2 separate regions of the Homo sapiens genome follow, and region 1 is linked to region 2. Evidence: fine-mapped expression QTL. A gene starts in region 2. The other region holds a variant in brackets. All regions are shown on one strand. Distances are from middle to middle.

Region 1 (5,376 bases), 48 kb after region 2:
TCTGTGACCCTCACCAGTCCATCTCTGCCCTGACCCTTGGTCTCCTGGCAGCCACTGGTTTGCTTTCTGTCACTTTAGTTTTGCTTTTCCTATGATTTATGTATAGAATCAGACAGTATGCTGTCTTTCGTATTCGGATTCTTTCAGTTAGCATGATGCTGTTGAGATGCACGCTCAATAGCATTTATAGCTTAGATCTGTGATCCATTTTGAGTTTTGTGTATGGTATGAGGAAGGGTCAATATACTTTCTTTACATTGGGATATCTAACTGTTCCTGCCGTTTGTTCAAAGGATTAATCTTTCCCCCGTTAAATTGCCGTGATGCCTTTGTTGAAAATAACTTGACCATACACGTGTGGGTGTATTTCTGGACTCTCTTTTCTGTTCCACTGATCTGTATGGCTAGCTTTAGGCCAATACCACACTCTTAAGTAATGTAACTTTCAAGTAAGTCTTGAAGCGTGGTGAAGTAAGTCCTTCAACTTAATTCTTCTTTTCAAAATGATTTTGAATATTCTAGGTCCTTTGTCCATATAAATTATAGACTCCATTTCTCAGTTTCTACAAAAAAGTCTCGTGGTGTTTGGAATGAAATTGTGTTGAATCTATAGATGATCAATACGTGAATAATTATCTTCCTGATGATATTGAGTGTTTTGATCCACAAGTACGATTTTTCTATGTAGGTCTTTAATTCTTCTCAGCAGGGTTTTATAGTTTTCAGCCTACAACCCTTACATATATTTTGCTAAATTTATCTCTAAGGATTTTATAATTGTTGATGCTACTGAAAATGGCATTTTAAATTTTCAATTTGCAATTGTTTGTTGTTAGCATATAGAAATTTAATCAAATTGTGTATTTTTAACTTGTATTTTGCAGTCTTGCTAAACTCATTGATTAGTTTTAGTAGCTCTTTTTAGATTCTGCAGGACTTTTCTACATAGTCTTTATTATCTGCAAATATAATTTTACTTCTTTTTTTCCGTCTGTATGTCTTTATTTATTTGTCTTGCCTCATTGAACTGGCTAGGACCCACAGTGAAGTGTTTAATAGAAATAGGAAAATAGACACTTGCCTGGTTCACAGTCTTAAGGGGAAAGCAGTCAGTGTTTCACCATTAAGTACGATGTTAAGTATAAGTTTTCCTTGAATGCCCTTATCAGATTGAGGAAGTTCACTTCTATTGCTGCTCCACTGAGTTGCCCTTTCTGCGTCTGTTGAGATAATCATGTGGTTTTCCTCCCTTATTCTATTAATATGGTGAATTACATCAGTTTTCTGATAATAAATTAACCTTGCATTTGGTCATGCTCTTTTATCCTTTTTTATATGTTGTTGGATTATCTTCCTAATATTTTGTTACGCATTATTGCATCTCTGTGCAGAATATTGGTCCATTTACTTTCTTTACTTGTAATGTCTTTGTCTGGTTTTGGTATCAGAGTAATTCTGGCCTCAAAAAATGAGCTAGGAACTATTCTTTGCTATTCTGTTTTCTGGAAGAGTTTGTGTTGAACTGATATTATTTTTTCTTTGTAAGTTTGGTAGACTTTACCAGTGAATCTTTCTGGGCCTGGAGTTTTCTTGGTGAGGAGGATTTTAACAACAAATTTAAATATTTTAATATATATGGGTCTAATCAGGTTATCAGTTTCTTAGTGATCTTTGGTAATTTGTATCTTTCAAGAAATGTATCTATTTTATCTAATTTGTTGAATATATTGGCATAAAGTTTTTAATATTCCCTTTTCCTTTTAATGTCTGTAGGTTTTATAGTAATGTACCCCTCTTATTGCTGGTATTAATATTTTTCCTGATCAATCTGACTGTATGTTTATCAATTTTAATAACTTTTCAAAGAACTTTGGATCTCATTGGGGTTTTTTTTCCTATTGTTTTTTGGTTTTTTATTTTATTGATTTATGCTCTTTTTTTTTTTTTTTTTTTTTCCCTGGGACAGAGTCTGGCACTGTCACCTGGGCTGGAGTGCAGTGGCACGATATTGGCTTACTGCAACCTCCACCTCCCAGGATCAAGCGATTCTCCTGCCTTAGCCTCCCGAGTAGCTGGGATTACGGGTGCCCGCCACCACACCCAGTTGATTTTTTGTATTTTTAGTAGAGACGGGGTTTCACCATGTTGGCCAGGCTGGTCTTGAACTCCTGATCTCATGATTCGCCCGCCTTGGCCTTCCAAATTGCTGGGATTACAAGCATCATCCACCGTGTCCAGCCTATGCTCTAATTTTTATTACTTCTTTTCTCTTTACTTTGGATTTT[AT/A]TTTTTTTTTCTTATTTCTTAAGGTAGAAGCTTACTTGTTAGATCTTTGAATTGAGATTTTTCCCCCCCAATATAAACATTTAATGCTATTGAATGCTCTAACCATTGCATCCCTCAAATTTTTTTTTTTTTTTTTTGGAACCAAGGTCTCACTCTGTTGCCCAGGCTGGAGTGCAGTGGCATGATCCCAGCTCACTGCACCCTCAAACTTCTGGGTTCAACAATCCTCTGGCCTCAGCTTCCTGAGTAGCTGGAACTGCAGGCATATGCCAGTGTACCTGGCCAGTCTAAAATATTTCTAATTTCACTTGTATTTTCTTCTTTGATCTTTTGGTTGTTTTAGAAAGGCTTAATTTCCTAATATTTGGAGATTTTTTTTAGATATTTTTATTTTATTTCTAATTTAAATGCAGTCAGAGAACATTCTTTTGTATTTTTTAAATTTACCAAGACATTGTGTAATGATCTGGAATTTGGTCCATCATGATAAATGTTTCATGTGCATTTGAAAAGAATATGCTTTCTGCTGTTGTTGAGTCATGTGTTCTGTAAATGTAAATTAGATCAAGTTGGTTGATAATGTTGATCCAACCTTTTCTAACTGATTTTCTATCTGTTTTATAAGTTATTATGATATGGTTTATATGTCCAGCTATAAATGTGAATTTCTCTATTTTTTCTTATAGTGCAGTGAGTTTTTGCTTCATGTATTTTGAAGCTCTTTTATTAGGTGCATATACACTTGAGATTATTATATCCTCTTGATGAATTGCTCTCTTTATCCTGAAATATGTCTTGCTTTGAAGTCTGCTTTGTCTGATATCAGTGTATCCAGTCCAGCTTTATTTGGTTAGTGTTTACATGGTAAATTTTTTTCATCTTTTTACTTTCAACTTATCTGTGTCTTTATATTTAAAGTAAGTTTCTCGTAACCACCATATAGTTGGGTATTGCTTTTTATTCATGTGACAGTCTCAGCCTTTTAACTGCAATGCTTGCTTAGATTATTTACATTTAATGTGAATATTGATATGGTTAGGTTTAAGTTAAATCTTTCATCTTGCTACTAATTTTCTGTTTGTCTCATCTGCCCTTTCTTTTTTTCCTCCTACCCTCCTCCTTTCGGGTTAATTGTGTATTGGCTTCTAAGCATAACTTTTTTTTTGTTTTTGCTCTAGGATTAACTTTTTATTTATTTTTATTTTATCTTATTTTTTTCTTTGAGACTGAGTCTCACTCTGTCACCCAGGCTGGAGTGCAGTGGTGCCATCTTGGCTCACTGCACCCTCCACCTCCTAGGTTCAAGCAATTCTCCTGCCTCTACCTCCCAAGTAGCTGGTACTACAGGCGTGCACCACCACGCCTAATTTTTTGTATTTTTAGTATAGACGGAGTTTCACCATGTCAGCCAGACTGAACTCAAACTCCTGACCTCAGGCGATCCGCCCGCCTTGGCCTCCCAAAGTGCTGGCATTACAGGTGTGAGCCACCACGCCCAGCCTGCTCTAGGTTGTACAATGCACATCTTTTACTTATCACAGTTTACCTTCAAATATTATGCCTATTGTATCACTTTATATATTAGAACCTTAAGACGGAGTACTTCCATGTCCCCTTTGTCTTTTGTGCTATTTTTGTCATACATTTTAACGTGTAAAAAAACCCACAATAACATTGTTATTATTTTTGCTTTAAACAGTAACAACCTCTTAAAGTTGTTTTGTGTGAGTGTTTTGTTGTTGTTGTTGTTGTTTTGACACAAGGTGTCACTCTGTTACCCAGGCTAGAGTGCACTGATGCAATCATAGCTCACTGTAGCCTCAAACTCCTGGGCTCAAGCAATCCTCCAACCTTAGCCTCCTGAGTAGCTAGGACTACAGGCATGTACCACCACACTCAGCTAATTTTTTATTTTTATGGAGATGGAACCTACCTCACTGTGTTGCCCAGGCTGGTTTCAAACTCCTGGCCTCAAGCAGTCCTCTCATCTTGGCCTCCCAAAGTGCCAGGATTACAGGTGTGAGCCACCACGCCCAACCTAAAGATATTTTTTAATGAGGAAAATTTTTTTATTACTTTTTTATTTACATACTTAGTTTTTTAAAAAAAATTAAACAAATAGTTTTGTTTTGTGTTTTTAATTCCTTCAAAGTCAGTGAGAAGGTTCTAGAAGGGTCAAATGCAAGATAGGAAAGGAATGATCCATAAGGCTTCATATCAGCCATAAAGGGATGGTCCTTGGGATGAACAGTTTCTGTGTTGTGGCAGGAGGAAGGTGAGGAGGGGGTACATATATCATTAATTGTGTATGTTTGGTATCATAAAGGTGATTAATTTGCTTTCTGATGGCTTCTTTTTTCCTTAAAAAATAGGTGAGATTGAGGCAGGAAATAGAGAGGTTGAAAATAGTCATTGCTGGGGGTAGGTTAGTGCATGACCAGAGAACTGTAGCAGGATTCCCAGGTATTTTGATGGTGCATTTGAGGTTGGTGATGATGCGTTTATTGTAGAAACACTGTACCCTGTTATATGTGACTTTCTGTATGTATTTGGCGACTTGGGTTTAGGTAAGAACAAAGTCAATAATTGGCTTTATTGGAGTTGGCATTTTGACAGTTATGAAAAGTCAGAGGGAAAAAGAAGTCTAAGGTATTGCAAGGTGTGTTACTGAATGATGAACTGAGGACTCCACTACAGGAAGACTAAGACGTTATTAACACATTTATAGTTGAAATAATTGAACAAGCCCATGAGAGAGTGAAGCTGAGATGTTGATGATTTTGGAGATGGAGCGGTTATGGGTGATGATAAAGGACAATGTGTGTAGCCTTGAGAGTGATAGCTCATTAGGAATGGAAAAAGAGATCTCAGGAAGACCAAAGAACCAGGAGGCTGTCCACAGGGAGGAGGAAGTTTCCCGGAAATGATGGTTGGGCTGGCTGAGGAGGAGGACTGTCCGAGGCAAGAGTCTGAAGAATGAGAGCCAGTTTGGCAAATCAGTCGGACAGGTCTTTTCTAATTATGTGTTGTTGATTTTTGACAGGAAGCAGCGACAGCAGTATATACCTTACTAGTAGTGTTTATTCTTCT
Region 2 (5,361 bases):
TGAAATCCGCCTTCCCAGAGGCCTGCCCTGCTGATCTGACTAAGCAGGCTCTGGCCTCCCCACTCCACCTTTCTCCCAGTTACTCTTCCTTCCAGTAGTTTGTTTTCTACACATCGCTTTAGGCTTTATGAACTTGTTTATGGGGTTGTTTGTATGGCTTTCTCAATAAAACGTCAACTCCCTGGGTGGCAGGGACTTTGGGCCACTGTTCTATCCGCTGGGATTCCAAGCGTCCCTACCCAGATCTGCACGCAATAAATGCTTGCTGAACGAATGCAGTTTGACAAAACCCAGCTTCGGAGGAGAGCAAGCCAACCTAGAGTATCGCTTGGAAGATATAAGGTGGTTTATTCAATACCTAACATGAACACTCACCTCACTTTTCCCCTCTTCCTTTACATACAATTTCATCCATCCAACAAATACTGAATATTTTTTCTGTACCAGGCAGCGAAGAGGGGCGGCACTCTGCACTGTACCTTTCATTTCTAACATGTTGAGATACTAAACTGAGCTTTCAGACATTTTTTTTAAAGGGCTCTACAACTTCTTTTCTGAAACAGAGTGTCTTTTACGTTTGTCTTCCTCCAGTTGCCAAATGAATCTAATTTTAGGAAGTGCAGGGAAGTGTTTTAAGTTCCACCGTCAAAATTCTGTTTCTGGGCCGGTGCAGTGGCTCACGCCAGTAATCCCAACATTTTGGGAGACCGAGGCCAGCAGATCACTGGGGCTTAGGAGTTTGAGAACAGCCTGGCTAACACAGACCATCTTTACCAAAAACACAAAAATTAGCCAGGTGTGGTGGCTGCACCTGTAGTTCCAGCTACTCGGGAGGCTGAAGCAGGAAACTGGCTTGAGCCCAGAAGACGGAGGTTGCAGTGAGCCAAAATCGCGCCACTGCACTCCATCCAGCCTGGACAACAGAGCAAAACCCTGTCTCAAAAAATAAAAAATCTGTTTCTAAAAATCGGGTGGGCTTTTTACCAGGGCTGCTTTATGGCCCGGTTCCTCCAAGTCCACCCCACTCACCGAAAGAGTTAGCGGAGGATGGGGGCGGTTGGGGTGGGCTCGGTAGGTCACGGGCGGTGAAAACCGTGGGAACCCAGAAAGACGGCCAAAGCACGATGAGGACCGCTGCCGGCAGCCCGCCCCACCCTGGGCTCCTCCCCACACCCGCTCGGGCAGCCGGGAGCCACCTACAAACTCCAGGACTCGACCCCAGAGCGCTGGCCTGAGCCGCCCCTGCTCGCCCCCAGTCCCCGCCTCTCCCTCCCTCTAATGCCCCCGCCCTCGACACCGTCGCCCCCCCGCCCCTGCCTCTCGCTCCCCACGTCTCTCGGCACCCCCGCTCCCATCCGCCCCCCCGTCCCCGCCTCTCGCCCCCATCCGTCCCCATTTCCAGCCTCCCCCTGACCCCGACTCAAGCCCCCCGACTCCGCCTCTCGCCCCTCTCTGCCCCCGCCTCTCACTCCCCTCTCCTTCCCCGCCCGCCTCTCACGTGGAGGTTGGGCCGGACCCGCCCCGCCCCACAGAGCCCGGGTCCCGCCCCCACGTGGCTGGCAGCTTCCTGGCCCTATCATTTCTGCGCTGGCTTCAGCGGCTCCGCCCCGGCGCCGTGCCAGGGGGCCGGACACTCCAGTCGCGCGGCACAGGCCTGAGGCCGCTGAGGGCCACCCCGTCCCCTGCCCGCCCGCCGGCCTGCTGGGATTGGCCGAGCGCCGGCCTCCGCCCGAGCCCGCGCGTTATGTAACGCGCCCCGGGGGCCCCGCCCCCTCGCCCTGGCTTATATAACCCGGGCGCACCGGCTCGCGCCCCGCCCCAGGGCCAATGGAGGCCTGCGGAGTCGGCCCCGACGACCAATCGCACGGCCCGGGGGCGGGACCGGTCACGCGGCGGCAGGGGGCGCGGCGCCGGCTGCTGACCGGCACGCGGCGAGCCTCGAGACTGCGCGAGGGCGGCCCCGGGGGCGAGCGGCTGTGCGCGGGGCCAAGGGCGGGGGCAGCAGGTGAGTGCGCGGCCGGGCGGGAGTTCTGGGCGGCCGGGCGGGAGTTCTGGGCACTCGCGCGCGGCAGAGGAGCCCCGCGAGCCCTGCCCTCGGTACTGGGGGCCCCCGGAGCGTGGCGCTTCCGAGCCACCCGCCTCCCCGGGCCCCATCCCTCGGCGCGCGGGAAAGTTGGGGCAGGGGTGAGGACCGCGCGGTCGGGGCGCCCCAGCCAGCCGGGCCGCTGGCGTCGGACTGTCTGTTCCATTTGTCCCTTGTCACCCTTGTCTCCTCCCCCTAGGCCGGAGTCCTGAAAGTCGAGCGAGCTCCGGGTTTTGAAAATGTTGGAGGGAAAAGCTCCTCGGAGATGAGCGTGACCCCCTGGCTCGTGGTGGCCGCCTGTTCTCACTAACGCCATGGCGGGGACCGGAGTGAGAAACCGGTGTCTGTCACTGACTGCAAAGTGAGCGAGAAGCAGGCTGCGGGCCGTCCCAGCACGACGTGGAGCCCCGCGGAGACCTCGAGATGCCCCGCGGGGAAGCTCCTGGCCCCGGGAGACGGGGGGCTAAGGACGAGGCCCTGGGCGAAGAATCGGGGGAGCGGTGGAGCCCCGAGTTCCATCTGCAGAGGAAATTGGCGGACAGCAGCCACAGGTGACGCGCTGGCTTCAGGCCGAGGGCCCCATGCGTTCGTTGTCCTTCCCTGGAGCAGGGAAAGGGGGACCTAAATCTTTTTATTCTTTTGTTTTCAAGCCCAGGGGAAAGTGTAAAGGGGAGACTCGGGCAATGTAGGATGAAGTGATCCGTGACACTGAAGAAAATTACCGAAGAGTATCAGGAGGGAAAAGTGGTTACAAAAGTTAGCTGAGTTGGGGCTCAAGTGGATTAAGGGAAAGTAAGTGGAGAATGTTTGTCATTCACCAGTTGCTTTGCCTCGAGTTCCCCACCTAGAGGAAGAGGGGTCACCACCCTGTGGACTGATGCCGGTAGAGCACTTAGAAACTTACCTGGCTTGCAGTTTGTGTTCCCTAAGCCGCAAGATGCTGTTGTCTTCAGAGGATGAAGTTGTAATTTTTTTTTATCTTCCAGTGAACAGCAAGATCGAAACAGAGTTTCTGAAGAACTTATCATGGTTGTCCAAGAAATGAAAAAATACTTCCCCTCGGAGAGACGCAATAAACCAAGCACTCTAGATGCCCTCAACTATGCTCTCCGCTGTGTCCACAGCGTTCAAGGTAAACAAGCCGGAGAGAAATTTCATCCTACGAATGCACCAGGACTCATACAAGCAGCCAGAGGAGTGGTCAGTGGGGTCTCAGTCAGACAAATAATTTGAGCTTTTTCTGGTGCTTTGTGGAAGATGAGCAAATCTACACCGATTCCATTCGTGTCTTAATTGTTCACATGTGAAAGACCAGGAAAACTTTATCTGTATAATAGTGTATAATACCTATGCAATGTTTTGCTCATGTGTTGCAAGAGAGTAGAGTTTAGCATAAGCACATTTTGAAGGCTGACCTTTTAAAGAAATATTGTCTTCTATGGAAGTTATGGGAAAAAAATGCATTCCACGAAATAGTTACCTTTACATGCCGTACACATACTTTCAAAATGCAGTAATGAGGCTGGGCGCGGTGCCTCACGCCTGTAATCCCAGCACTTTGGGAGGCCGAGGCGGGCAGATCACGAGGTCAGGAGATCGAGACCATCCTGGCTAATACGGTGAAACCCCGTCTCTACTAAAAATACAAAAAATTAGCCGGGTGTGGTGGCGGGCGCCTGTAGTCCAGCTATTCGGGAGGCTGAGACAGGAGAACGGCGTGAACCCGGGAGGCGGAGCTTGCAGTGAGCCGAGATCACGCCACTGCACTCCCGCCTGGGTGACAGAGCGAGACTCTGTCTCTAAAAAATAATAATGATAAAAATGCAGTAATGATATATCAGGAATTTACCAAACTAAAAATGAACCATTGTAAACACTTTTTCTCTCTGACATTTCCAGGGATTTCATTAAAGCCATATTCTCTTTAGCACAAACCTCAGTGCTTCATATATGATATGTTCCTGAATGACAGAGTACTGTTTCTGCTCCCCCCGCAAAAAAATTGTGTATGCATCTGAAATTTTTAGTTAGTACCTTAAATGTATCTTGCTTCCTGTGATCCAGAACATGCAGAATTCATAAAATCAAATCTTAAGTTTGCACAACTATCAGTATTTTAGGTAAAAGCAGAAAATGATCTGTTTTTGAGAAAAATGCACTGAGGTGTTCTCATCCGAAAAAAATAATCCAGCTTGATAGTGATGAAATGGTTTCCTAAAGATACTGTTGTCACTGGACTACCTGTTTATCTCCCTGTGTTTCTTAGCAAACAGTGAGTTTTTCCAGATTCTCAGTCAGAATGGAGCACCTCAGGCAGATGTGAGCATGTACAGTCTTGAGGAGCTGGCCACTATCGCTTCAGAACACACTTCCAAAAACACAGTAAGAATTCATGCATTTTGCCATATCAACCTGGGTGACTTTTCCTAAGGGCCTGCTCTAGATGTAGGCTTTTAAGAAGGATAACAACGTTTCAGCAACCACAATTTGAGAGAAGCAAAGGAGGAACTGCTAAAGAGGCATGGTGTAGCTTCTCCGCCCTTGCCAGAGAAAACATCTAAAAGCAGAAGCAGCCCGTTCTGTGTGCTGTGCAGCTCAGTGACTTTGGTTATGAGGTGCTTCTAGCTCCTTAGCATTCCCAAGCTCTCTTGAATTAAGAGAAAACAAAAATTACACTGCAGAGTAATTTCCTGCACCTTATTCTAATCTCCGAATTGTTAATTTCTATTTATATCATTCTTAGTTCCAATACCTACTACTTCAAGTTGTAACAACTGGATGTTATAGAACAGGTGAGTTGAGATGCTGTCATTTTTCCTAAAATTTTGGAAGAGACCTTTAGTATATCTTTTTTAATCTCTCTTCTTGTTTGACAGAGTAATCTTCATGTTTGGTTGATACGGTGGAGATTACTTATTTTAAGTAACATAATTGTTACTTAAAGATTTTGTAATAGTGGAACGTGCGCAATCCCTAGTATTATAACAGTGCTTATTTTATGGACTGGTGTGTACATAGTACTGTAGGAGGTGCTATGGAGATTTTTAAAAATAGCTTAAGAAAATATTTGTCTTTTAAGATATTTAAAATAAAGCTAGAGAGGAAAGTATGCCAATGCTAGCAAACACAAACTGCTGATTATAAATAAGTTTCATTTATGTGTAATGGAAAAAATTAGAGCAGTGATGCTTATGTAATGAGGTTTGTCAAGGACAGCTTCTTGAAGAAGGTGAATCTTCAGTGTGTCTTAAAGCATAGAATCTGCGTTGATGACGAGA

The links. PIP is the estimated chance that this variant, and not a neighbour inherited with it, causes the effect.
Region 1: its variant is the best candidate, but not a certain one, in a credible set for the expression of PER3 in whole blood (INTERVAL, PIP 0.61).

Annotation. Positions count from the first base shown.
Region 1 is chr1:7,830,433-7,835,808 of GRCh38, forward strand. It overlaps PER3 (period circadian regulator 3), which reads left to right. Exons shown (of 22, transcript NM_001377275.1): 20 at 5,330-5,376. Among named protein-coding and RNA genes, the nearest start is that of UTS2, 20 kb to the right of the region's middle. The variant AT/A (reference allele first, on the strand shown) is at 2,286.
Region 2 is chr1:7,782,372-7,787,732 of GRCh38, forward strand. PER3 (period circadian regulator 3) reads left to right here and starts at 1,920. Exons shown (of 22, transcript NM_001377275.1): 1 at 1,920-2,005; 2 at 2,283-2,634; 3 at 3,070-3,215; 4 at 4,350-4,465. The coding sequence starts at 2,507. RefSeq lists a silencer at 1,386-1,995.